Linked DNA regions of Homo sapiens. The protein of the gene in region 1 purifies or fractionates together with the protein of each later gene. This does not show direct contact. Each region holds a gene or a part of one and is shown in the gene's direction. Other genes may lie near its edges. The genes, in order: COPB2, COPG2, ARCN1 and COPZ1.

The links.
Region 2: the proteins of COPB2 (region 1) and COPG2 fractionate together in Homo sapiens (co-fractionation; 4 studies listed by BioGRID and IntAct, with this or other methods). This does not show direct contact.
Region 3: the proteins of COPB2 (region 1) and ARCN1 fractionate together in Homo sapiens (co-fractionation; 5 studies listed by BioGRID and IntAct, with this or other methods). This does not show direct contact.
Region 4: the proteins of COPB2 (region 1) and COPZ1 fractionate together in Homo sapiens (co-fractionation; 6 studies listed by BioGRID and IntAct, with this or other methods). This does not show direct contact.

What each region holds. Positions count from the first base shown.
Region 1 is NC_000003.12:139,372,634-139,379,658, reverse strand, and holds part of COPB2 (coatomer subunit beta'), read left to right. Parts: intron 1-192; coding exon 193-279; intron 280-485; coding exon 486-612; intron 613-1,469; coding exon 1,470-1,618; intron 1,619-4,044; coding exon 4,045-4,191; intron 4,192-5,070; coding exon 5,071-5,170; intron 5,171-5,850; coding exon 5,851-5,993; intron 5,994-6,246; coding exon 6,247-6,446; intron 6,447-7,025. UniProt on the Homo sapiens protein: The coatomer is a cytosolic protein complex that binds to dilysine motifs and reversibly associates with Golgi non-clathrin-coated vesicles, which further mediate biosynthetic protein transport from the ER, via the Golgi up to the trans Golgi network.
Region 2 is NC_000007.14:130,546,745-130,553,769, reverse strand, and holds part of COPG2 (coatomer subunit gamma-2), read left to right. Parts: intron 1-1,339; coding exon 1,340-1,415; intron 1,416-2,425; coding exon 2,426-2,529; intron 2,530-3,120; coding exon 3,121-3,246; intron 3,247-4,393; coding exon 4,394-4,456; intron 4,457-5,227; coding exon 5,228-5,367; intron 5,368-5,924; coding exon 5,925-6,096; coding exon of another isoform or gene 6,097-6,128; exon of another isoform or gene 6,129-7,025. UniProt on the Homo sapiens protein: The coatomer is a cytosolic protein complex that binds to dilysine motifs and reversibly associates with Golgi non-clathrin-coated vesicles, which further mediate biosynthetic protein transport from the ER, via the Golgi up to the trans Golgi network.
Region 3 is NC_000011.10:118,575,387-118,582,411, forward strand, and holds part of ARCN1 (coatomer subunit delta), read left to right. Parts: exon of another isoform or gene 1-1,512; intron 1,513-5,859; coding exon 5,860-6,123; intron 6,124-7,025. UniProt on the Homo sapiens protein: Component of the coatomer, a cytosolic protein complex that binds to dilysine motifs and reversibly associates with Golgi non-clathrin-coated vesicles, which further mediate biosynthetic protein transport from the ER, via the Golgi up to the trans Golgi network.
Region 4 is NC_000012.12:54,320,782-54,328,143, forward strand, and holds the start of COPZ1 (coatomer subunit zeta-1), read left to right. Parts: upstream 1-4,349; 5' UTR 4,350-4,382; coding exon 4,383-4,400; intron 4,401-7,362. UniProt on the Homo sapiens protein: The coatomer is a cytosolic protein complex that binds to dilysine motifs and reversibly associates with Golgi non-clathrin-coated vesicles, which further mediate biosynthetic protein transport from the ER, via the Golgi up to the trans Golgi network.

The sequences.
Region 1 (7,025 bases):
GTTTTAATTTCGAATCTATTAAAAGATAGTTGGTCTTTTTTAAAAATTTGAATGTTGAGCTTTTATATTTTAGCCTGAGAATATACTAAAATGAGAAGTGATCTTAAAAATTGGATGTTTGAAATATAACAGAGTAGATTTTGTGGTTATTTTCTTATAGCTCAATTTGTGTATTCTTGTTACATTTTAAAGACACTGGTGAAGACATTTGAAGTATGTGATCTTCCTGTTCGAGCTGCAAAGTTTGTTGCAAGGAAGAATTGGGTTGTGACAGGAGCGGTAAGTAATTAATATGAATCTCTATTCCCATTTTCTGAATTGGTCAATGATTGTGTAAATTTGTTGCAGGATTTTGATTCCCGATTTGTTTTGTTATTTACAGCAATGTTTTGAGGCATAGACTTTATTCCTTGAGCCTGTGATATAGTTTTTTTGTATAATTTACTTGATAACAGGGATGATGGTTTTAAAATTTCTGTTTCTAGGATGACATGCAGATTAGAGTGTTCAATTACAATACTCTGGAGAGAGTTCATATGTTTGAAGCACACTCAGACTACATTCGCTGTATTGCTGTTCATCCAACCCAGCCTTTCATTCTAACTAGCAGTGGTAAGAGATGACCTTTTTTGGTCATGTGCGTCTCTTTGGGTAATTCATTTTCATTCACTGAGACATGCTATGCTTTAACTGCTGTTACAAATATAATTCTAATTCCAAGCGGCCTTTAAACTATTTAGATCCATTACTGTGCTATTGATGCTGCTTGTGTTTGTACTATAATGAAATATCAACTGTACTTAGGATTTGTGTAATGATTGCTCCAGTTCCTGTCAGAGAAGACCTACAAGTCTAGATGTTTAAACATCTGCTGAACAGAAAGGTCATTTACATGTTGATGAGTGAGTTTTTGGCAGATTGCCATAGACCCTATTCAGTTCAATCTTTATATTCAAACTAGTTTGCTCCTTGGTATTGTGTATAAATAGTAGACCTCTTGGAGGACTGGAAAAAGAGGTAGCACTGAATTAGTAATAGCTCTTTGAAATGTTTTTAAATTAAAAATTGAGAAGTAATTAAAAACTTTTTAAAAACCAATCTTGTGAGGGCAAATGCTTGTTCTCTACATAGTCATTGCTATCACTATTCAGTCATGCTTAGATCTAGTCAAACTTATATTACTCTTTGGCCATTCTTTAATGCCCACTGAATTTTTAAGTTTTTTCACAGAATTTTTATATTTTCTATTTCTAATCTATTTTATTTATTTTATCTCCACTTTTCTGTAGAGAGTTAAATTTATTTTTAAGATAAATAAGCATTTTGAAAACTCTATTTGGTTTTGATTCTATTTCTGTAAGTCATGGATTATATGGTTTGTGTTAGGTTTGCTTCTTCTAAAGACTGTGTCTTAGTTATGAAGTGAAAAAATAGAATTACAACTAACTTGAGACTTTCTTTTGGCCTAGATGACATGCTTATTAAGCTCTGGGACTGGGATAAAAAATGGTCTTGCTCACAAGTGTTTGAAGGACACACCCATTATGTTATGCAGATTGTGATCAACCCCAAAGATAACAATCAGTTTGCCAGTGCCTCTTTGGACAGGACTATCAAGGTAGGGCATCCACATTTTGTGTCAGTTATCATTATTAGTGAACTATACTTGCCTTAGGTGTTTTACTGTTGACTGGTCAGAAATGTACCCATCTTAAAAATTTTCCTCAAAAGCCTGTTTTGAAGTCAAAATAGGATTTCTCATTTTAATCCAAACGACATGTTCTGTTTAGAAAAATATTGTGGCAACTCAGTGCTCTTAATGAGGAGCGTTTTTCTGTGTGGAGGCAGCATGTTATAAAAATTTTTTAGCCTTTGGAAACCCAGAATAAGAAAAATGCCAATATCTTTTTAGGATACTACTGTCCTCTCCTTTTAGTATTCATTGTTGACTTCTGCTCATCGTTTATCTATTTTACATTTAAATTCCATATGCCTCTATTCTCTCTTTCTTACTCCATTTTACCACACTGCTGTCTGTTATCTTTCTGAAACAGTTCCTGATCTAAGGATAAAGTCCAAATGCCTTAGTGTGGAATACAAGGATTTCCAGGACTAGCCTGGGCTAATATTATGCGACATCTCCTAAAACCCTGGTCTACTCACCATCCTCTAGAGAGGCTATGAATGTTCACAAAACCTTACTTCATTGAACTGTTCCATCTTCCTGCACTTCTCTTTATTTTCCTATTTTGATATATTTTCCTCCGGAGAATTACTCAGCTTTTAAGGTTTAGCACAAATATTTACTCTTGAGAACCTCTTGTCAGACATCAACTTCACCTCTAGACAGAGCCAGTTATGCTTATCCCATTTCTTCCATTGCTTTTTGCCTCTGTTTCAGCCTTTCTCAGATTGAATTATTATTACACGTTTTTGGAAATCTTTATCCCCTGAAATACTGGATTTGGGGGATAGAAACTGTGTCACTCCCTTTCCCCAGCCATTCAATAGCAAACAGCAAAGTGCCTTACCTGACCTAGATGCTTAATACATGTTGCAGTGAGGGCAATCATGCTTCTTTTTTTTATCATAATATTTAAAATATTTCCATGCCAGGCACGGTGGCTCACGCCTGTAATCCCAGCACTTTGGGAGACCGAGGCAGGTGGATCACAAGGTCAGGAGATCGAGACCATCCTGGCTAACACGGTGAAACCCCGTCTCTACTAAAAATACAAAAAATTAGCTGGGTGTGGTGGCAGGCGCCTGTAGCCCCATCTACTCGGGAGGCTGAGGCAGGAGAATGGCATGAACCTGGGAGGCAGAGCTTGCAGTGAGCCGAGATTGCGCCACTGCGCTCCAACTTGGGGGACAGAGCGAGACTCCATCTCAAATAAATAAATAAATTAATTAATTAATTAAAATATTTCCATATGCATTGACTTAAAATAAATTAACTTTTGCTTACATGTTTGCTTTCACCTATATAAAACACTGTTAGTAGTTTTCCTTTATGTAAAATGTTATGTGTCTGAATATCTTAGGGTTTTAACCTTAGCTATTTTGCCTTTGATTGGATTATCCTTGCTTTTGACATAGATTAACTTTGAAATTAGTTGTAAACTTTTATTTTTACTAATTTAGGTTTATCTTGAGAACAATAATTGTCTTATCTTCAGTTCCAATAAAGTTTATTTTATACAGTAATTGATAAACATTTGTTACACGTTTATACTCCCCACAGGGCCTCCCATATAATAGGCACTCAATAAATATTTGTAAAGATAAAGCTTAATTCTGTGCTGTGGTAATTTTTAACAATTTTCTACACTTTAAATTGGTAATTAGGCAGTAATTTTCTCCTTTTAATAGGCCTTTATTTTTATTTATTTATTTATGTATTTTTGAGTTACGGTCTGTGTTGCCTAGGCTGGAGTGCAGTGGCATGATCACAGCTCACTGTAACCTCAAACTTCTGGGCTAAAGCGATCCTCCTGCCTCAGCCTCCTGAGTTGTTAGGACTACATGCGTGTGCCTTCATGCCCAGCTAATTTTTTACTTTTTACTTTTTTGTAGAGACAAGGTCTTGCTGTGTTGTCCAGGTTGGTCTTGAGCTCTTGGGCTCAAGTGATAACTTCCATCTCGGCCTCCTAAAGTGCTGGGATTACAGGTGTGAGCCACCACACCCAGCAACTTTTAATATATCTTACTAAATCTACTTTCATGAGCTGTATATTAAATCTATAATAAAATAATTTCATAACATCTAGATTCCTGGGCGTCACTGTGGATTGACTGACTTATAATCTCTAGAGATAAAGCCTGGAAATTGGCACTTCTTTTAAAGAACGCCATAGTGATTTTGCTCCCTGAAAATTCAAGTAAAATGAGAAAGAACAAAAACCAAACAGGATAAAAAATAAAATTTGATAGCTCTTCTCTCCTGGGCTTTGGCATTTTACATAATGTGTCAGAAATATGGTGGATTTGCCTTTTGTAAAGCAAGGCCCCATATTGACTGGCCGATGCTGTTTCTCTCTGCAGGTGTGGCAGTTGGGCTCTTCGTCACCAAACTTCACTTTGGAAGGACATGAGAAAGGCGTGAATTGCATTGATTACTACAGTGGTGGGGACAAGCCATACCTCATTTCAGGTGCAGATGACCGTCTTGTTAAAATATGGGATTATCAGGTACAGTTTTTCATAACCTTACTTCCATATGTTAGATATGTTTCTTACTATTTCTTATAGGACAGTTAAGACTTGGGTTGTTGAAAACTGTTCACAGCATAATAACTTAAGGTATCAGTATTTGCACCTAAACTGTGTTCCCAGAATTCTCCATAAAAATGAAAACAATGCATATCAAGATTTTAAAAATAAAATACCAACATGTTCATATTTCATTTCATAATTGCATTTAGAAATTTTAACATTTTAATGTTGAATTATCCTCCATAATCTTCATTGATAGACTTCTATTCATTTTTGTAAGCTAGCAGATCAACAATTACCAACCATTTTGCCAAATCGTACTCTTGTAAACCTAGTTATGAATTCTTGTTAACATGCTTCCTATCTCTAAGATTTTCTTATATTTTGATATTTTTGTTTTCCACATCAAAAGTTCCCATAAGCAATTAATAAAATGAGGTCTAGAAAGTCAGTTTTTCCTTGAAACATTTTCAGATTTGTACTTAAATCCAGAATAAAAATATTAAAGGCTAAAGCAGCACTGTCTACTTAGCCAGTGATGGTAGGTGTGAGTTTTAAGGGGGAAATCTATTATCCTGAGAATTTGGGGGAATAATATTCAGACAAAAGCCTTCTTGGGTTTTTTTCCCCTTCTTTAAATGTGATAGTTACATTTACATTTATTTTACAAAGTAATTAGATAAAATATTCATATATACAACAAGATCATCCTATTTCAAAAATTTCTATATTGGATATTATTTAGATTTTCATGACTACTATCATTTATAATGTATCTGTACACTGAGAAAATTAAGGGCGGGCTGGTTACATGTTTTTCATTAATAAAACATGTTTTCTATGTCTTAATTACAGAATAAAACATGTGTGCAGACACTGGAAGGACATGCCCAAAATGTGTCTTGTGCCAGCTTTCATCCTGAGTTGCCAATCATTATCACAGGTTCAGAAGATGGTAAGTTAGAAGGGTATGTTTATTCCTGTGCTAGTAACTACTCAGTGGGCATTTAAAGCAAGTAATGTCTCTGCATTATAATTGTAGGTTTCCAAGGATTTTGATATTTTTATTAAAGTACCAGACTTAAGCTATAAAAGAGTAAAGGGGCATTATTTTCATCATCATCATCATCATCATCATCATCATCGTCATCATTCTCATGTATTTTGATTCTGTCACTTAAATAAGAGGACCGTCAGCTGTCCTAAAGAGAAACTGAAAAAGCATGTGCTTTGGAGTCAAACAAACCTGGGTTCAAAATCAGGCTCTGTTATGTCATGAATGTGTGTTTGGGCAAATTATGAAATGGAAACATATATATCTGCTTCATAAAATTATAGTGAGAAGAAATTGTGGGTAGAAAGCATCTGGCACATAGGAAACACTTTACCCAGGAAATCCTGTTATTATTTCATGTTTAAAATCGTAATTCTTAGTTTTTGTTTCTTATATGTTATGTGTTATGTTTATGTTGCTTTTAAAAATCATTTAAAGACAGTAGGTCAAAAAATTGGTCATTAAGCTGCCAGGAAGTGTTATCTGTTTGAATAGAAAGACTTCTATGGGTCTCTTTCACCTGACACAGTTTATTGTCGGATGTTTGTATCAAAAGGGAGTATTTACATTGTTCTTTTTAGGAACAGTACGTATTTGGCATTCAAGCACCTACCGGCTTGAGAGCACACTGAATTATGGAATGGAGAGGGTATGGTGCGTGGCCAGTCTAAGAGGGTCAAACAATGTCGCTTTGGGCTATGATGAAGGGAGCATCATTGTTAAGGTAATTATACTATCCCTCTCAGTAGGTGGACATAGGCAAAACCATTTTCTTTGTATTTTAGTACTGTCATCTTCCAAGTAACCAGTTTTATAAAACTGGCACTTCTTTCATTAAGCACTAGACATTAAGCAATGAAGATTTAAAGTGGAAGAAAGGAAATGGAGCTCTCTGTTAGGTGAAAAAAATAATCTGTTTTGTTTTGGTTTTATTCATTTTCCTTTTCATTGCTGAGAGCTATTTTTCTTTCTTTCAGCTTGGTCGGGAGGAACCTGCCATGTCCATGGATGCCAATGGAAAGATAATTTGGGCCAAGCATTCAGAAGTCCAGCAGGCCAACCTAAAAGCAATGGGAGATGCTGAAATTAAAGATGGTGAAAGATTGCCACTGGCAGTAAAGGATATGGGCAGTTGTGAAATATACCCTCAGACTATTCAGCACAATCCTAATGGGCGGTAAGCCATCACCAAAATTGTCCCTCAGCTTCTGTGTATGTTAGAACAGGTTTGCAGATCCACAGTCCACTCTTGCCCTGTGGTTGGCATCTCTAATCATTCCTCAATGTGCTTTTGCCCTGGCCTCACAATCCTCAACACAGCTGCAGTCAGCCATGCCACTTGATCAAGTTGGCACAAAAGATGGAGCATGTTTCCCATCTGGACTTGTTCTATACCACACAATTTTGAATAGTTAAATAGTAGTTTCCTGTTATTTCGCATGCATTGAGTTTGTGTTTTTGTGTGCTCCTTTGAGGGCAAGGAGTATGTCTTATGCTGAGACTTAGTAGGTGCCCTCTCTAAATGCTTGCTGACTCATTGCTCTTTCAAGAAGAAAACCTGACTCTGAGATATGTGTCTTTTGAAAAAGTTTTGGGATTGATAATAATTCTGTTTCTTATTTGTAATTCGAACTGTCAGTTGAATTTCTCCCTTAAGATTTGTAAGTCACCAAACATCTTGTGAGAGAGGAGTTTCTAGCACAGTGAAGTCTAAACCTGTGGAGCTTTAAAATTATTTTACAGCAGGTCTGGGCAT
Region 2 (7,025 bases), on another chromosome or scaffold:
AGCTCCTCTTTCCAGCACCATTCCTTAAAATATTAGTTCTCTGTAAGATTTTGACTTCTCAACATCTACATTCCTCTTGGTGATCATTTTCAGAGCTCTGCTAATAGGCTGTGACATTCCAGTCATGTCTCTTTCCTGAACTTGTTTGTCCAAATAACTTAAAGCACTTCAAACTCAACCTGAAATTCAAACTAACCTCACATTCATCATCCACTCAGTTATCAAGATAGAATCTTGTTCTGCTGCCTTACAGCCCCTATCTGTTCTTTAGCAAAGCGCTTTCAATTGTGTCTCCTTAATATTTCTTCATTCTCTTCTATTTTCTTGGTGCTGATTGAGGCTGTCATCCGTTTCAGATCCCTAGCTATCTGACTGCTTCTAGACTCACATATATCCTGCCTATTCTTTACACTCTGCTAAAAAAAAAAGAAAAGGCGGGGGGGACTTTCAAATGTACAAATTTATCTCATATTTAATATCCTTTAATAATAATGTTGAGATTAAACCATACCCTAATTTTGTTTTATTGCCAGTCTCTCCCTTGTCTCTTCTTGCTCTCCAACATGGGTCCTTTGCTCAGCCTTGCCCAACTGTCCAGTAATACACCACACTTTCTTCTCTGGGCAGGGGCCATTCGAACGTGTTATTTTCTCTGCCTCTAATACTCTTATCCTGCCTTTTTCCTCTGGCTAACAGTACTTGGTCTTCAGATTTTAGCTCAAGTAATATGTATTAACTCTTTGTCTTAGTTTTCCACCACCAATTCGGATTTAGTTCCTTTCTGTGTATTCACATAGCATCCTGGATATATTTCTTCCATGGACTTACCTATGATGTCTTGTAATTGTCTCTCTACATACCTATCTTTCCCACTAGAGTGTAGCTCCTTGAGATCAGGGACATGTCTTTTATCTGTCCCAGTACCTAGCACAATTCCTGACAAAAGTTTGGTGAACAATGAATCTTTGTTGAATGAGAGGAATTTTAATAATAGAATTTCTTTTTATGCTTGGGGCTGGTTGTTTGAGATTAGAGCTTAATGACATCAGTGTGATATATAAGGGGTTGTGGTGGGGTGGAGATATAGCTCCTACAGAAAATCTATATGAATCTTTTTCCTCAATTTTTGGAAGATTTTCCTATTCAGAGCTCTCTTGGGCTTGCAGAATTCTATTTATGCTTAACAGTATCAAAGAAATAAGATCAAGAAACACTCAATAAAACAAGGGAGTTTATCTCCACTGAACATGGGGACACTTTTCTAATTTTTTTTCAAATGGTTATTGGTTAACTCTGAGAAACCAATATTTATGTACCATAATTGTATGCTTCATTATAGCTGCTGTGAGTGCTTTGGCTAAATTTGGGGCTCAGAATGAGAGTCTTCTCCCAAGCATCCTTGTACTCTTACAGAGGTAAGTTAAATAATGTCTTTTCTAAAAAAAAATAAGAATTCTATATGGTTAAACAGTGAAATCCTCATTCTACCATAGGGCGGATGCACTCTAAGCCCTAAGAGTAGAGTTATTGGAGCAAGTCAGGGGCAAATGGCAATTCCTTTCTCTTTTTAGTAATTATGTATACCTCCCAATCAATTTGATGTGCTATTGACTGATCACTTCATGAAAGCCCCTAGCCTTGGTTTACACAATAGCCTACATGTTTCCATCACTCCTCACTCTTATTTATAGAGCTTCTCTTCCCAGCCCCATTCCCTAAAATATTAGTTCTCCATAGGGTTTTATTTGCTAGGTACATGTCACATTTGATTTTGGCTTTCTCTCACATGATTTTGAGAAAGTGACTTAAATACATTTGCCTCAATTTGTACAACAGGGGCTTACTTAAAAAAACTGTTAGGTAATTCACTATGCAGAGTTAAAAATAATAGTTTTTCATTGTCTTCATGACTCTATTTGATGAGGAAAAGACTTGCTTTAGCAAACTGTGATTGCATCTTATAATTGAAGCAGATAAATTACAAGCCAAAGGTTGGCTAGTTTACGTAAAACAAATTGTCATTTGAGCAAAAACAGTGGCTGGATTTTGAATTTATCTTTTCAGTATCCTTGGAGAGTATAATACTCCCATTTCCTAATTACAGAGAAGTCTAAGTCTTCAACAGGGTCATGTAGTTACAGATGGAAGAAAAGACTCCAGACTGCTATTTCATGTTCTTGTGCTCCTCGTTATTTTAATGCCTACTTATGTAGTGCTTGTGATTCACAGTAGCAGTATTTCTTTAGTAATTCAGAGCAGTACCCAAGATTTGTGAAGACTTTAGGAGCCACTGTTGGCTATTGTTGAGCACTTTTTTAAAGGTAGTATCAGATGACGACCTGAGCTGTGTCCTTTAGATTTGGTAGTAGAGCTATTGGAAGTCTTTGGGGTACTGTGACATGACTATTCTGTTTCCCCTGGACAGGTGTATGATGGATACTGATGACGAGGTACGAGACAGAGCTACCTTCTATCTGAATGTGCTGCAGCAGAGGCAGATGGCACTAAATGCCACATATATCTTTAATGGTCAGTGAAAGCCAAGGATGTACACTTTTGTTCCTCAAATGGTGTCTTGGAAGCATATTTTATGATTTGCATATGAGCTAACTTCACTAGGCAAATGCTTGGTTTTTGTCTTTGAGTGCACTTCCATTTCTAGAGAAACCTGTGTTTATAGGATATTTTCTAATTTGGTAATGATAATTCCTATGCAGCAATCTATAAGAATATAGATTGGGCCCTTACATTTTTTAGGAACGTTGCTCACTTATTCCTGGTTCTCCTTGAACTCCCTCTTGGATGGGTTTACATTTTTCCCGTTTTCTTATGCTATCATTGTTCCCATATAGCTAAGTTGCTTTCTTTTCTGGGAGGTACATACATTTTGTTGAAAATGTGTATGCTATGCTCCCATGTTTCCTTGAATGAAATAAGTCAGTTTATAAGTTTATAAGGTAATTTCAAGAATATCCTTTATTTTTATATTTAGGTTATAAAGCTTTTGGTTATATTTTTCTCTTCCTTCAGAAAGCTTAGATAAATATTACAAACCTGGGCCTATTTGGATTCGAGGATTGGCAAGAGGTTATAATGCTGAGATTTCTCTATGTTTCACAGGTTTGACGGTCTCTGTACCAGGGATGGAAAAAGCCTTACACCAGTACACGTTGGAGCCTTCAGAAAAACCGTTTGACATGAAATCAATTCCTCTTGCTATGGCTCCTGTCTTTGAACAGAAAGCAGGTTCACTCTATTCATTTTTCTGTGTATAAGTAGTTTTGCAAAACTAAAAAATATTAGCATATTTTCTCTAATACTCATTTAATTGTCACTCTTTTTTTTTTTTTTTTTTTTTGAGATAGAGTCTCACTCCCGTCGCACAGGCTGGAGCACAGTGGCGCGATCTCTAGTCACTGCAACCTCTACCTCCCGGGTTCAAGCGAGTCTCCTTCCTCAGCCTTCCGAGTAGCTGGGATTACAGGCATGCGCCACCACACCTGGCTAATTTTTCTATTTTTAGTAGAGACTGGATTTCACCATGTTGGCCAGGTTGGTCTTGAACTCCTGACCTCAGGTGATCCACCCACCTCGGCCTCCCACAGTGCTAGGATTACAGGCGGGAGCCACCGTGCTCAGCCGATTGTCACCCCTTCTAAATCTTTTAGATTTAAGACATATTTTTATTAGAGTTTAAAAAAAACTCCTGGTTTTTACATAAAAGCAGTAAGATGAAATGCACTCCAAAATGAAGGGTTTTTTTTAATGCAAAGCATTACAGTATCTGAAGTCAGTTGCCACTGTGCATCTCAGAGCAGTAATAGTGCTGTCGCCTCCTATTTTTATTTTCTGAAGTTGATAATCTCTAAGTTAATTGATTTTGTTATTGGAGGTTCGTCTTAAAAGAATTTATGGGCGACAATCATAAAAAATATTCCCAAAGAATATCTAATCTTAAAACTTAAAAACAAAAACAAAAGAAGTCATAAATGTTTAGTGGTTAGAACACAAAACTGGGAAGAAACAATTTTATGCTTATTTTCAACATTTTCAGTTTTTCTGTTGATATAAGTAATTTTTCCTATTTTGATCATGAGAAGATTTTTAAAATAAATTGTTTTTCCTTTTCTGAGTAATTTTTGTACATTCCAGTCCATTTAAAGCAAACTCTATATTTTTAGGGCTTACTTTATGATTCCACAATATATGTTCACTAAATACATTTTAATTTGAGTGTCCCCCCACCAGAAGTGATAGATAACCTATAAGTATGATCTAGTAATAGCTCATTATATATCTGCTAGAAATGTCTGCTCTCCTCTCTTTCTGTCTGCATTGCTAGCTTGATAGTAGTGGGAGAAGTTCACTTACTTGCTCATATCTGTCTTTATAGAAATCACACTTGTGGCTACTAAGCCAGAGAAGTTGGCTCCTTCCAGGCAAGACATTTTCCAAGGTATGATGATTTGATGGTTAGACGTAATAATCTTTCCCCTAGGCATTGTAAATATAAAAAGTCTACCAGTCTTACTCAAATTGATCGGTTCTCAATATAGGAAATCTTCGTGTGGCTGAACACCATAGGGTATAGTTGCTGAGGCTACCTGGAGTCCATGAACTTTCCAGTTTGTAATTGCTAATTGGGAATGTTTTTCTTTTCTGTATCTCGTTGGTTAACAGGGAACTCATTGTAAAATAAGTATTTACTTTCTTTTTTTTTTTTTTTGCTTTTTGCTTTCATTAATATATAAGCTTACTTACTTGAAAGATGACTTCACTAAAACTTGGGGACATATTAGTTGAATGTTCAACTATTAGTAAGGCTATGGAAACTAAAGCATTTTTTTTTTTTGAGACAGAGTCTCGCTCTGTCACCCAGGCTGGAGTGCAGTGGCACAATACCGGCTCGCTGCAAGCTCTGCCTCCTAGGTTCACGCCATTCTCCTGCCTCAGCCTCCCGAGTAGCTGGGACTACAGGCGCCTGCCACCACGCCTGACTAATTTTTTTGTATTTTTAGTAGAGACGGGGTTTCACCATGTTAGCCAGGATGGTCTTAGCCAGGATGGTCTCGATCTCCTGACCTCGTGATCCGCCTGCCTCGGCCTCCCAAAGTGCTGGGATTACAGGCGTGAGCCACTGCTCCTGGCCAACTAAAGCATTTTTTAAGCATCCAGACTGAAGTCTTTCCCTGTCTTCTTCATAGCCTACGTTCTTTTTTCTTGATAGAACAATTGGCTGCCATTCCTGAGTTTCTGAATATAGGACCCTTGTTCAAGTCTTCTGAGCCTGTTCAACTTACAGAAGCAGAGACAGAATATTTTGTTCGATGTATCAAGCACATGTTTACCAATCACATCGTGTTCCAGGTAAGATAATGCCCTTGGCTGCTGTAGAGATTTAGTATAAACTGGTATGCTTTGAGACAAATATCCTTTACCTATAATTCTAGTTTCTATTATAGAGAATTAATTTGGCAGAATTTCTGGTTTTCTTGCTTAACACCAGAGCTATAGAGATCCCTTCATGTGATGGGTAACTTTTGATGGTTAAAATCTAAAGGACATAAAACTGAAATGTGTGATGAAGTTGGACAACATAAAGTATAACCAATTTTCTAAAATCAGCATTTAACATCAGGGTAGATTAAGTGGGCTATTCTGAGAACTTAGATTTGACAGCCATCAGACTTCTGCCATCTTGTTTGAGACAGCAGTCTCAGGAAAGAGAAAAAACTGATGAATAATATAAACAAAAGACCTCAAGAATAAGGCTCTCCCTGTTGCCAAAAGAAGAATCTTAGGAGGAGACCTACCCTGCTCTGTAGAGATAGAAGGTATAGTGGGTTCCAGAGCTGAGTAGTGGGTTATGAGTAGGAAGGATAACTTGTTATCCTTCACAGCTTTTCCATTTACTGACTTTTCAGTTTGACTGCACCAACACTCTCAATGACCAGCTGCTGGAAAAAGTGACAGTGCAGATGGAGCCATCAGATTCCTATGAAGTGCTGTCTTGTATCCCAGCCCCCAGCCTTCCTTATAACCAACCAGGAATATGTTACACTCTTGTTCGTTTGCCTGATGATGACCCTACAGCAGGTACTAACCCTCAGAAGGGAGGAGATACGTGATTCAGAATGCATTTCCTTGTGAGCTCTTCAACTCTTCAAATGCTCAGTTTAAGAATGTGATGCTTTTCTAGAATTTAATGATGAGTGTTTGTGTGTGTGTGTTTGTGTGTGTGTGAATATATATATTTATAAAATGGTTTACTGCTGCAGAAATATTAATTTTAAAACTAAATCTCTGAGTAAAATTTGCTGAACACTTAATCTTAAAAGAGAAACTGAGTGTGTATAGCAGTAGCACAAAAAGGAACTCAAGCTTTCTGTTGGAATAATGTGACCACTTGTGAGAGTTCATATACCTGGTCTCCTGTGAAGAATCTTGACCCTCTTCTCCTCAAAGTTTCTATCTAGTTAGATAGAACTTGGTTATGTAGTAGATTGTTGGCATTTTAAAATACATCATTTTTGAAGGTCCTGTAGCATAAGGCTGGTGTCTGAGAGCATGTCTCAGCCTAGTGAGTAGCTTAGCCAACCATGTGTGTCCACATTAAGAAGGGCTTTTAATTCCCTCCTTGACCCATATGCAGTCTTTGCAGGGTGGAGAAATAGCCCCTAAAAGACAGCCAACTAGTGCCAATAGTAGTATTTACTTATTTGGAGACTTGGGAAGGTGAATGTCAAGTATTTATTCTACTTGATTCCCCCCATCATCATTTTCCTCCTTGATTTCTTCTCTTCTCATGTTCAGTGCACAATATTCGTAACTGTTACCCAGTTTTCACAGAAATAAGCACACACATCACATTTATGTTTTGAACAACTTTTACTGCTCGTAAGTACAGGAGAAACAGAAGTTAAAAAATTAACAAATACTGGGAAAGTTACAGAGTTACAATAAATCATAAAAGCACTAGTAAATAGTTATCCCTGGTCATCATTCAGTTACATTTGGGGCTTAAC
Region 3 (7,025 bases), on another chromosome or scaffold:
AGTTCACTGCAGAAACTGATAACGGGTGTGTGTGTGTGTGTGTGTGTGTGTTTTAATTCTCTGCAAGCTTTTGTTTTAGAATAGAAATGTGATGGACTTAAAACCCTCACTGAGTAAATTACTTTTCAAGTTTTAGGTTTCGTATGTGGTCTACATTTTATTGTAATCTTCTCTCTGATTTTATCTATAATAGCTTCATATAAATAGAAAAGACAGAACAGTCCTCCCTGACAATTATAGAAACTAGCCTTAATATGACCATGAATTGTGTGTGCATGTATATGTGTATAAAATATTGCGGTGAATTACAAAGGAGAAGGTGACTATAATTCTGGAAGTAAGGGATCCTGAAGCATTTAGAGATTCAAGAAAGAACTTGACTTTTTTTGAGAGAGAGTTGTGCATATTTATCCTGAATTATTATACCACCTGTTATTCTTGTATCTCTCTTGCACACACAATTTGTTATGGTTAGACAATTTGCCTTCTGGCAGCCTAATGTTACTATAAAATATTGTTCCAAAGTGGTTAGAACTGGAGCAGTGGGTATAAAATGGAAGTATTGTACATTTTCTGTCACTGTAGTTGTTTTTTTTTTTTTCTGTTACTGTAGTTTTCAAATGCTTAGACTTACAGAACTTTAAAGACACAGAGCACTTTGGATTTCATGTAAACTAACCTCCTATGTTAGGGATATTTCAATAATCAATTAAGTGACTTATCCAAGGTCACATAATTAGTGGCAAAGGCAGAACAGAAACCTAATTCTCCAGGTTTTTTTACTTGAGGCACTTAACAATTCATGTAGTTAAGTCTGTGTAGGAGAGAGTTGTTATTTAGTCCAAAGATAGTGTACTCAAACCATGTAAGAATTATTAAAAGTTGTTTGGCAAAGCTCAACTTTATGAGGGAATTTTTTTTTTTTTTAACCGTCCTGGAGAGATCATCTAACTTATGGGCCCTCAGTTTTCACATCTGTAAGACAATCAAGGGCTCTTGCAAGTTCCTTTTAGATCTGGAATGTTTTTTCCAAAAATGTTAAAAAAAAAAAAAAAAAAAAAAACCAAAAACTTTGTAATCATATTTATTAATTCTTCCTCAGAGAAAATCAGATCAAATTTCAATAGGGAAAATTGTTAACTTACCTTTTAGTATATGCTATATTTTAATAATTGTTAAACCAGTAAACATTAATGTAAAGAGGTTTATTATTTCAAGAACTTTAAGAAGACAAATGTTAATTTAGGATAGGATAAATTTATCATGTTTAGAGGTGACCATACCTTCTAGCCATATTAGTAGCTGTAACAGAGAGACCTGTGTCAACTGCCTGGAACCTGTAATTTGTGGTGTCCTGGGTGTTCGGAGATTTATGCTATACTTAGTATGGGGAACTATGGTCCTATTTTGGAAGCCTTGTTTTGCTTGTATCTGGATAATGGAATGACTCAAAGAGAGACATATGATTTTACCCTACTTCTTTCTTCATCTTGACGTACTGAAAGCCTGGAATTCTGGCCAGGTGTGGCGGCTCATGCCTGTAATCCCAGCACTTTGGGAGGCTCAGGCGGGCAGATCACTTGAGGTTGGGAGTTTGAGACCAGCCTGGGCAACATGGCAAAACCCTGTCTCTACAGAAAAATACAAAAAATTAGCCAGGTGTGGTGGCCTGTGCCTGTAGTCCCAGATACTTGGGAGGCTGAGGTGGGAGAATCACCTGAGCCCAGAAGGTTGAGGCTGCACTGAGCCAAGATCACGCCACTGCACTACAGCTTGGGCAATAGAGCAAGACTCTGTTTCAAAACAAACAAATCCTGGAATTCATCAAAGCATGATCTAAATTCTGTTTCTTTCTTTCTTTCTTTCTTTTTTTTTTTTGAGGCAGAGTCTCACTTTGTAGCCCAGGCTGGAGTGAAGTGGTATGATCTTGGCTTACTGCAACTTCCGCCTCCCAGGTTCAAGCAATCCTCCCACCTCACTCTCCCCGTAGCTGGGACTACAGACGTGCACCACCAGACTTGGCTAATTTTTTGTATTTTTTGGTAGAGACAGGGTTTTCCCATGTTGACCAGGCTGGTCTCGAACTCCTGACCTCAGGTGATCTGCCTGCCCTGGCTCCCAAAGTGCTGGATTAAGGCATGAGCCACCGCTCCCGGCCTAAATGCTGTTTCTTCTATCAAGTCATCCCTGACTGTACCAGCTGGAAGTAATCTCTTCCTCTGAATTTCCACGCACTTTATCGGTTACTCTCTCATGTTACTTAACACATTCTGCCTCATATTACAGTTATTTGTGTTTGTGTCTTATCCCTATTAAGCTTCTTGTAGGCAGAATGCTAGCCTGTGTCATCTTAATTCTCAGAAAGCATGTTGTATGTATAGTAGATGTTCGATAAATAATTACTCAGTTAATTCTTATAATATCGCAAAAATGGAGATTACCAGTACCTATAATTAGTTTTTGAACATGCTCATCAGTAAAGTGGATGGGCCAGGTGCAGTGGCTCACTCCTGTAATCCCAACACTTTGGAGGCCAAGGCGCGCAGATGACTTGAGGCCAGGAGTTGGAGACCAGCCTGCCCAACATGGCAAAACCCTGTCTCTATTAAAAATAGAAAAATTAGCCAGGCTTGGTGGTGCTGGCCTGTGCCTGTAGTCCCAGTTACTCAGGAGGCTGAGGCATGAGAATTGCTTGAACTCAGGAGGCAGAGCTTGCAGTGAGCCAAGATGGCACCACTGCACTCCAGCCTGGACTACAGAGTGAGACACTCTCTCAAAAAATAAATAAATAAATAAATAAATAAATAAATAAATAAATAAATAAATAAAGTGGATAGTAACATACACCTTTTTGTTCCTTTTTCCCTCTCAAGTTGCTTTTGATGTTTTTACCTAAATTTTACTTGTATGGTATAGAGGTGTTTTTAACTCCAGTTGGAAACCTAAGAACTACCCTTGAGCCTGTAAACATTGTTTCTAACAGGTTTATTATTAGATATGGGGTTTCTATTAAATGCAGCATGTTTATATAGGTCTGAAGTTTTGGTCTGAGCTGTCCTTTCTTTAGGTGTTCATTTGATTTGTCTTATTTCTTCAAAACCTCATAAAATTCTAACATAGAGGACCATGACTTCCTAGAGCTATGACTCTCAACCTTTTAGGGATAGGAGGCTCTACAGGGATTACATTTACAATATGCTCCCATTTATTAATAATATTTCTCATCGCATGAGGGGATTTTCTATGGGCCATTTGAAATAACTTCTCTAGAGGATCGATGCATTCCCTGAAACTGTATGTAAAATTTTGGGGGGAGAGTCAATATTCATTATTTGAATATCAAAATATTGACAAAGGCAAAAATCCATTGCCTTGGCCGGATGCTGTGGCTCACACTTGTAATCCCAGCACTTTGGGAGGCTGAGGTGTGCGGATCACTTTAGCCCAGGAATTTGTAGCCTGGGCAACATGGCAAAACCCCGTCTCTCTTTTTTTTTTTTTTTTTTTTTTTTTTTTTTTTAATAAAAAAAGAAAAATCCATTACCTTGAAGTGGCATAAATTTTTTTCATGAGATGCATGTTTATTATTACTAATGGTGCTGTTTTACATCATGAATATATGTGCTACAAGTTGTATAGCACTTCTGAAGTACAGTTTCATTATAGTCATTTGGCCCTCATAATAGCTTGTAAGGTCATTAGATAATGCTGCATTTTATAGGAAAAGAAACGAGGTTAAGAGAGGTTGGGTAACTGAAGGTCAGGCAGATAGTAAATAGAAGAACAAAACTAGAAAATAGATTTTCTCACTCCCAGTCATTTAGTTTTTCTAATATCAGCTTGGTTCTTTGCAAATTTGGGACACTAGTTCTAAGTCTTTAGGAAAAGGAGAAACCAATGTGAAATGATCCCAAATATAAGGGAATTCCCTACTTTTCTGATGAAACTATTAAGAAGGAAAGCTTTTTGCCAATTGTATAAACTTTTTAAAATGCAGCCAAAATAGGCCGGGCGGTGGCTCATGCCTGTAATCTCAGCACTTTGGGAGGCCGAGGTGGGCAGATCACCCGAGGTCAGGCATTTGAGACCAGCCTGGCCAACCAACATGGTGAAACCCCATCTCTACTAGAAATACAAAAAAAAAAAAAAAAATTAGCCGGGCGTGGTGGCAGGCGCCTGTAATCCCAGCTACTCGGGAGGCTGAGACAGGAGAATCACTTGAACCTGGGAGGTGGAGGTTTCAGTGAGCGGAGATCTTGCCATTGCACTCCAGCCTGGGCAACAAGAGCAAAACTCCATCTTAAAAAAAAAAAAGGTAGCAAAAATAGTCAAATATGTTCTTAAAATAGTTAATAATTCACTTATATGTATATGTTTTAAATAAATAAAGTTTAATTTAGAAATAATTACTTTTTTCCATTTTCATATTAATAAAACAATTTTTTCTAGATTCTTTATGAACATCATGTCATCACTGGGGCCACTTTTTGAATCATCAGTTTGGTATTTAGCAGTTTTGAATCCATGTGTGATATATTGGCAGTTTGGGAAATTTTATCCCAAGTCATAAAAACCCATTTATATAATATTAGGATAGTTGCTTTTAAAAGGAATATTTTGTAACTGATATTCAACACATGAAATTGTGAGTTCTGGCTAGGCGTGGTGACTCATGCTTGTAATCCCAGCACTTTGGGAGGCCAAGGTGGGCTGATCACTTGAGTCCAGAAGTTCAAGACCAGCCTGGGCAACATGGTGAAACCCCACTTCTACCGAAAATACAAAAATTTGCCAGGCATGATGGCACCTGCCTATAGTCCCAGCTCCTTTCAGGGGGCTGAGGCAGGAGGATTGTTCAAGCCCAGAAGTTGAGGCTACGGTGAGCCAAGATTGCACCATTACAGTCCAGCTTAGGTGACAAAGTGAGACCCTGTCTCCAAAAAAAAAGAAAGAAATTGTGAATTCTGATCCTCAGGATAATTACTAAATCCAGTGACCTTTTGTTAGTACTACATGCAAAACTAGCGTAGTTTGAAGATAAGATGTATCCCAGACAATTATTTTAGTTCAATATAAAGTCATTGAGGGAGCACCTTTAATATGAGAGACTATGGAAGGATTCAAAACTACACAACTCTTTTTTAAAAATATATAAGTATTCCTTACATAAAAATATATTACCATGATAGCATATTTTCACACCTAAAAAATTAGCAATAATTTTTAATATTATCAATTATTCAGTCACTGTTCAAATTTGATTTATACATTGTGATTGATTGACATGTCTAAGTCTCTTAATGTGTTTGTATTTTTAGTAGAGATGGGGTTTCACCATGTTGGTCAGGCTGGTCTCGAACTCCTGACCTCAAGTAATCCACTCGCTTTGGCCTCCCAAAGTGCTGAGTTTACAGGTGTGAGCCACTGTGCCCGTGAAAGTCAGTATTCTATTACTTGTCATGTCAGCTGGTCGTGGTAGTTCACGCCTATAATCCCAGCACTTTGGGAGGCCAAGGCAGGAGGATCGCTTGAACCCAGGAGTTCAAGACCAGCCTGGGAAACATAGCGAGATACTGTCTCTACTAAAAGCTTTTTAAAAATTAGCGAGGCTTGGTGGCACACACTTGTAGTCCCAGCCACTCAGGATTTCTTGAGCCCAGGAGTTTGAGGTTGTAGTGAGCTGTGGTCTTGCCATTGCACTCCGGCATGGGTGACAGAGTGAGACCCTGTCTTAAAAATAATACTACTACTAGTCATGTCACTAAATAAATATGTCATTCTATGGAACATTTCCTGAGATGCTGAGAAAACAGATGTGAAGAAATAATTAGTACTTACTTATGCATATGTTCCTGGCAGGTGCTGTTGGCAGCAGCGGTCTGCACAAAAGCAGGAAAGGCTATTGTTTCTCGACAGTTTGTGGAAATGACCCGAACTCGGATTGAGGGCTTATTAGCAGCTTTTCCAAAGCTCATGAACACTGGAAAACAACATACGTTTGTTGAAACAGAGAGTGTAAGATATGTCTACCAGCCTATGGAGAAACTGTATATGGTACTGATCACTACCAAAAACAGCAACATTTTAGAAGATTTGGAGACCCTAAGGCTCTTCTCAAGAGTGGTAAGAGTACTGCTATAATACTGGGTTCCACTTTTTGTTTTACATTTTATGTGAAACTAGTTTTTCCTCCAAAGCAGCTGATGCTAACCAGTTTGCAGGTTCCTACTCCGCACCCCAGCGACTTATTGCTGCAGCACCTTGTTTATTCAGCAGACATTTATTGGGTGTCCTCTTAGACTATAGATGTCTCAAAAGAATATGGGAACTACTGTTTCATTTCCCAGTTCTTAAGCAGTTGTTCTAATCTGCCGTTCTAGTTCTGACACTTGTTTGGCTATGCTTTTTAGGTAATGTTTTTTAGGTAAGACTTACTGATCCAGAGACAGACACACACACACACACCCCTCTTCTAAGACTTTATGCCAAAGTCTTGCTTAAAATGAAGACTTAGGTAAGACTTACTGATCCAGAGACAGACAGACAGACAGACACACACACACACACACACACACACACACCTTTTAAGACTTTATGCCAAAGTCTTGCTTAAAATGAAGGCTAAGGCCAGGTGCGGTAGCATGTGCCTGTAGTCCAAGCTACTCAGGAGGCTGAGGCAGAAGGATTGCTTGAGGCCAGGAGTTCAAGTGCACAGGCATTATACTTTAGTGTGGGCAACACAGCAAGACCCTGATTCTTTTTTTTTTAAAGACGGAGTCTCGCTCTTGCCCTGGCTGGAGTGCAGTGGTGCAATGGTGCAATCTCGGCTCACTGCAACCTCCACCTCCCAGGTTCAAGCAATTTTCTGGCCTCAGCCTCCCGAGTAGTTGAGATTACAGATGTGCATCGCCATGCCTGGCTAATTTTTGTACGGGGTTTCACCATGTTGGCCAGGCTGGTCTCGAACTCCTGACCTCAGGTGATCTGCCTATCTTGGCGTCCCGAAGTGCTGGGATTACAGGCAT
Region 4 (7,362 bases), on another chromosome or scaffold:
TGGTGGCTCACGCCTGTAATCCCAGCACTTTGGGAGGCCGAGGCAGCCAGATAACCTGAGGTTGGGAGTTCGAGACCAGCCTGACCAACATGGAGAAACCCCGTCTCTACTAAAAAAATACAAAATTAGCTGGGCCTGGTGGCACAAGCCTGTAATCCCAGCTACTCGGGAGGCTGAGGCAGGAGAATCACTTGAACCCTGGGAAGCAGAGGTTGCGGTGAGCCGACAGTGTGCCATTGCACTCCAGCCTGGGCAACAAGAGCGAGACTCCATCTCCAAAAAAAAAAAAGTTAGCTAGGGCCCTAGAAAGCTCTGGTCTGAACCTCTCCCCTTTCCAGAAGTGACAGCTATAGTCCATCCAGAGAGGGTACAGAGACTTGCAGAGTTCTCTCACTGATTAAAGCAAAGTCACAACAATAACTAATGTCTCTAATTCAGTCAATTGTCTTCCTCCCACAGCACAATTACCCCAACAGGCTGGAGAGCTAAGAATCAAGCGATCTTCTGCAACAATATCTGACTTAAAATTTGTCAGTTACTACACAGAAAAAGGAGCCAACCATCCCCATGAACCAACCATACCACACTTTTTCCTCCTTATGGTCCTTGTAGAATATCTGGCACTGAGGTAGAGTCCTTGAGGTAGGACTGGGATGCAAGAGAGGCAGTACAACAAACTAGAGGAGTGGACTGTGGGTAAGAACATGGTTTAGAGTCTCCTGTGCTCAAACGTATGGCTGCTAAAACAGTTCTGTAGCCTTAAGTAAATTATTTAACTGCTCTAAACTCCATGTTGCTCATCTGTAAAATGGGTTTAATAATCATCTACTTCGTAAGGATTTTTTATTTTATTTGTTTTTTTTGAGACGGAGTCTCACTCTGTCACCCAGGCTGGAGTGTAGCATGCAATGTCGGCTACTGCAACCTCTGCCCTCTGAGTTCAAGCGATTCTCCTGCCTCAGCCTACCAAGTAGCTGGGATTTCAGGTGCCTGCCACCGCGCCCGGCTAATTTTTTGTATTTTTAGTAGAGACGGGGTTTCACCATCTTGGCCAGGCTGGTCTTAAACTCCTGACCTCGTGATCCACCCGCCTCGGTCTCCCAAAGTGCTGAGATTGCAGGTGTGAGCCACCGCACCCGGCCAGGAATTTTTTTTTTTTTTTTTTTTGAGACAGAGTTTTGCTCTTGTTGCCCATGCTGGAGTGCAATGGCAGGATCTCGCTCATTGCAACCTCCACCTCCCGGGTTCAAGAGATTCTCCTGCCTTAGCCTCCGGAGTAGTTGGGATTACAGGCACCTGCCACCACACCTAGCTAATCTTTGTATTTTTAGTAGAGACGGGGTTTCACCATGTTGGCTAGTCTGGTCTCGAACTCCCGGCCTCAGGTGATCTGCCTGCCTCAGCCTCCCAAAGTTTTGGGATTACAGGCATGAGCCACCATGCCCAGCTACTTCATAAGGATTTTAAAAAATGTATTCAATAATGTATTTAAAGATTTAGCACCGTGCCTGGCACATAATAAGTGGGCAGTAAATGTTAGTATTACCTTTAAGCTGCAAAGCCAATGACAACCCACTGACTGTGATGCCAGGCACAGTAAATGTGTGAACAACTCTCCTTGAGGAATAAAAGGACAAGCCTTCACTTCTTCCAGATATAAGGCTTAACACCTGGTATTCCACCAGAAATTCACCTTCTGTCAGAGTACACTGTAGGTCTATAATTTGCATTGTATTGTTCAATTTTTTATTTTATCTTATTTTTATATACAGACTGGGTCTCCCTGTGTTGTCGAGGCTGGAATGCAGTGGCTATTCCCAGGCACAATCACTGCGCACTACGGCCTCGAACTCTTGGGCTCAAGCATCCTCCTGCCTCAGCCCCTGGGGTAATTGGTACTACAGGCACATGCCACAGCGCCCTTGTATTGTATTGTTTTATGTTTCCTTGATTCTACTCCGACTATTAGAAAAATTCCTGGGTGGCTGGGCCCGGTGGCTCACGCCTGTAATCCCAGCACTTTGGGAGGCCAAGGCGGGTGGATCATCTGAGGTCCGGAGTTCGAGACCAGCCTGGCCAGTATGGCGAAACCCCGTCTCTACTAAAAGTACAAAAATTAGCCAGGGGTGGCAGGCGCCTGTAATCCCAGCTACAAGGGAGGCTGAGGTGGCAGGGAGAATCGCTTGCAACCGGGAGGCGGAGGTTACAGTGAGCCAAAATCACACCACTGCACTCCAGCCTGGCGACAGAGAGAGACTCCGTCTTAAAAAAAAAAAAAAAAAAAAAAAGGCCGGGTGCAGCAGTGGCTCACGCCTGTAATCCCAGCACTCTGGGAGGCCGAGGCGGGCGGATCACGAGGTCAGGAGATGGAGACCATCCTGGCTAACACGGTGAAACCCCGTCTCTACTAAAAATACAAAAAATCAGCCAGGCGTGGTGGTGGGCGCCTGTGGTCCCAGCTACTCTGGAGGCTGAGGCAGGAGAATGGCGTGAACCCGGGAGGCGGAGCTTGCAGTGAGCCGAGATTGAGCCACTGCACTCCAGCCTGGGGGACAGAGCGAGACTCCGTCTCAAAAAAGAAAAATTCCTGGGTAAGTTTGGAATCTCTTCTTGGAGGGCTCCTAAGGATATAATTTTCAGAGATGAGGGAAAAAATCCCTTTAGGATAATTAAGGTAATAGGTGTCCCTGCCCTAAGAGGAGTCAGGGATCAGGAAACCAAGGGATAGGGGAAAGCCAAGCTTCATCAAAATCATTCCCTATTGTGAAATTCTTGCATTCAGTAAACTTCTCTTTTCTCATTTTGCAACGCCTCATTTCTTTCCTCTCCTTTCTTTCCTTCTCTTTCTTTCTTTCTTTCTTTCTTTCTTTCTTTCTTTCTTTCTTTCCTTCCTTCCTTCCTTCCTTCCTTTCTTTCTTTCTTTTCTTTCTTTCTCCTTTTCTTTTCTCTTCTCTTCTCCTTTTCTTTTCTTTTCTTTTTTTTTTGAGATGGAATTTCGCTCTTGTTGCCCAGGCTGGAGTGCAATGACGAGATCTCGCCTCACCTCAACCTCCGCCTCCCAGGTTCAAGTGAGTCTCCTGGTTCAGCCTCCCGAGTAGCTGGGATTACAGGCATGTTCCACCACGCCCGGCTAATTTTGTATATATGTATATTTTTTGAGACGGAGTCTCGCTCTGTCACCCAGGTTGGAGTGCAGTGGCGCGATCTCAGCTCACTGCAAACTCCGCCTCCTGGGTTCACGCCATTGTCCTGCCTCAGCCTCCAGAGTAGCAGGGACTACAGGCGCCCGCCACCCACGCCCGGCTAATTTTTTGTATTTTTAGTAGAGACGGGGTTTCACTATGTTAGTCAGGATGGTCTTGATCTCCTGATCTCGTGATCCGCCCGCCTCGGCCTCCCAAAGTACTGGGATTACAGGTGTGAGCCATCACGCTCGGCCTGTATTTTTTTTTTTTAGTAGAGACGGGGTTTCTCCATGTTGGTCAGGTTGGTTTCAAACTCCCGACCTCAGATGATCCGCTCGCCTCGGCCTCCCAAAGTGCTGGGATTACAGGCTTGAGCCACCGCGCCCAGGCACAACGGCTTGTTTCTATTGGAAAACCCCAGAATTTACTCCCTATAACCCCTCTCTTATTCTAATCCCATCCCTTTCCCCGTTTGTCCCGCAAACCCCATCTCCAAAGCCGATTTCACGTTGAGCTCAAGTTGGCCTTTACAAACTGACTTCTCATGTTCCTCAGGCCCAGCAAAGCCTGGAACTCCACCTTAGGGAGATTGTTATTGCGACTATCAACTCCTGGCAGCCTTGGTTTATGTAGTTAACATGTTGGGCCTTTCTTGGCTCTACTCTATGGTTGTGCAGACTTTCTGTGAGGATGCTGAAGTGACCTGAGCGAGCATGAGGGAAGGGCTAGCCACAGAGATCATGGACCTAATGCGGGCGCTGAAAATAGGGATTAGGGCAGGATTCCGGTTAGAAAGCGCCAGTGTTAAAGGCTAAGGAGACACAGCGCCCCCTAAAGAGGGTGCGGTTTAAAAATCGCTAAATCAGTCCGACAATATCACGTGTCCTCGGCCCTACCAATTGAAAATTAACAATCGCTTCTTCTGTTCCCCATGGAAACAACCCCGCCCCACTAACCCTCCCGCCCCAATGAGTCGTGAGGTTTTGGCGTTTTATTGAGTATTCAAGCTGACAATCAAACACCTGAGCCTTCTGGTTGGACACTTTGCTTCCGGTAAGCAAGCTAGTACAATAATTGGCCAATAAAGCAAGCCTTACCCAATGATCCTTATCCTAGGCGGGGCCTAATGGGAACGTATGGCCAATCAGCGGCGGCGTTTCTTTTGCGGCTCCACGTCGGCACCAGCTGCGGGGCAAGATGGAGGCGCTGATTTTGGTAGGAGCTGGAGGGGCAGCAGAGATGCTGTGGTGTCCACAGGGGCCGGGAGTCAGGGTTCAGCCCGAGTGGGAGACGGGGAAAGAGAGTTCCGGGTAATTCTTGGGGACTGAGCGTTCTGCTGACCTTTGGAATAAGTGTGTGGCCTAGTGTAGGAGCTAAAGCCTTGGTTTAGAGTAGGAAGCCCTGCCGGGGAGAGGGCATAGAGTCGGTGGAAAGTTGAAGGCAGCACATGGACTCCTTAGGATACACAGACCTGTAGGCGTACTGGATTAGGACCCTTCAGGTTGCCCCTTATTTTTAGCATTGTGGATGATACCCTGATTTTAATTTACCAAACCACCAAACTCGCCCCATATTGTAAGAAAAGAATACAGATGTTTTGTCGTTACAGACTCCTCCTGATGGTTTCCCAAGTTTGACTCTCCATTGCCGATTCCCTGCCACATTCCTTCAGGAAACTGTTTTGTCTTCGGTTTCCTGTTAATCCCTATTATATAGGTTTGTCAAATAATCAGTATTCCATCAAAGTTCTGGGATACCTGATAAAGTTAGCATGGATTGTGGAATATTTTTTCTAGACTCCTTATTCTGTTCTCCTTTTCTCTACCCATTTAGACCTTAGGAATTCTTTTTTTTTTTTTTTTTTTTTGAGACCGAGCCTTGCTCTGTCACCCAGGCTGGAGTGCGCACGTGGCGCGATCTTGGCTCACTGCAATCTCCACCTCCCGGGTTCAAGCTATTCTCTTGCCTCAGCCTCCCGCGTAGTTGGGACTATAGGCGCGTGCCACCACGCCCGGCTATTTTTTTTGTATTTTTAGTAGAGACGTGGTTTCACCATGTTGGCCAGGCTGGTTTCGAACTCCTGACCTCAAGTGATCCGCCCGCCTCGGCCTCCCAAAGTGCTAGGATTACAGGCTTGAACCACCGCGCCTGGCCAGGAATTATTATTATTATTATTATTATTATTATTTTTGAGACGGAGTCTCACTCTGTCGCCCAGGCTGGAGTGCAGTGGTACGATCTCGGCTCACTGCAAGCTCCGCCTCCCGGGTTCACGCCATTCTTCTGCCTCAGCCTCCGGAGTGGCTGGGACTACAGGCGCTCGCCACCACTCCCGGCTAATTTTTTGTATTTTTTAGTAGAGACGGAGTTTCACCGTGTTAGCCAGGATGGTCTCGATCTCCTGACCTCGTAATCCACCCGCCTCGGCCTCCCAAAGTGCTGGGATTACAGGCGTGAGCCACTGCGCCGGGCCAGGAATTCTTATTGTATGATCTAGGATGCTAATTTCTCCCTCTCTGGTTACATGAGAATTGTGGTCGCTAAAGGGCTGTATTAGCCCTCTTGTCCATATGATGCTTTATGCTTGTTCTAACAAATAAAATACCTGTTACCCCTTTTTAGAACTGGACCAGAGAATTTCTCTCAAAAGTGCCCTATTTTGCGATTTGGAGGGGTGTGTGTGTGTGTGTGTGTGTGTGTGTGTGTGTGTGTGTAGGTAGGTAGGTAGTATAGTGTAGGAATTTAACTCCCAGCCTTCTTCCTTAATTGGCTTGAACTCTAGGCCTCTTTCCAAAGAAGCTTGTCTTTTATTTTCCTTCAGATCTCCTAAGCATACACATTCAGATCCTCATCAGATAAAAGAATAACAGGTTTTAATTCCTCTCTTTCAGTTAAAGACAGTTAATTCCTTATGTCGGTTGGTCAAATATAGGTAAAAAGCTTAAAATCTGAGTAGTTTTAAATATTTTCTGTACCAAGCAGTTAACAAGTATTCTTTTTTTTTTTTTTTTTTTTTTTTTTTTTTTTTTTTTGAGATAGAGTCTGGCTGTGTTGCCCAGGCTGGGGTGCAGTGGTGCAATCTTGGCTCACTGCAACCTCCGCCTCCCAGAATCAAGCAATTCTCATGCCTCAGCTTCCTGAGTAGCTGGGGTTACAGGCACGCGCCACCATGCCCAGCTAATTTTTGTATTTTTAGTAGAAACAGGGTTTCTCCATGTTTGCCAGGCTGGTCTAGTCTTGAACTCCTGACCTCAAGTGATCTGCCTGCCTTGGCCTCCCAAAGTGCTGGGATTACAGGTGTGAGTCACTGCACCCCGGCCAGTTAGCAAGTTTTTTTTTTTTTTTTTGGAAACAGAGTCTCGCTGTGTCACCCAGGCTGGAGTGCAGTGGTGTGATCTCACCTCACTGCAACCTCTGCCTCCTGGGTTGAAGCAATTTCTCCTGCCTCAGCCTCACGAGTAGCTGGGACTACAGGCACGTGCTGCCACACCTGGCTAACTTTTTTGTATTTTAGTAGAGACGGTTTCACTGTGTTGCCCAGGCTGGTCTTGAACTCTTGAGCTCAGGCAATCCACCTGCCTCAGCCTCCCAAAGTGCTAGGATTATAGGAGTGAGCCACCGTGCCCGGCAGCAAGTATTCTTAATCAAGAGGTTGAGTGCAGTGGCTCATGCCTGTAATCCCAGCACTGTAAGAGGCTGAGGCAGGAGGATCGCTTGAGCCTGGGAGTTTGAGGCTGCAGTGAGCTATGATTGTGCCACTGCACTCCAGCATGGGTGACAAAGCCAGACCCTGTCTCTAAAAAAATAAGAATAAAAAACCTCCCCCTAAACCCAATTAGCAGACTAGGATAGATTCTAGGGAATTGGTTTTTTTGGAAGTTTTTAGACTTACCTATATATGTTTAGAAGGGAGCCTGCTTAAAGGTAAAGGAATGAGGAAGATAATAATTGGGGAGCCCTTTTAACAATGGGCCTGTGTGTAGTGGGTAAGCTGGGGGAGTTATATGTGAAAGTATCTCTGTCGGGCGCAGTGCAGTGGCTCATGCCTGTAATCCTAGCACTTTGGGAGGCTGAGGTGGGCGGATCACTTGAGGTCAGGAGTTCGAAACCAGCCTGGCCAACATGGTGAAACCATGTCTCTACTAAAAATACAAAAAAAAATAGCTGGGCGTGGTGG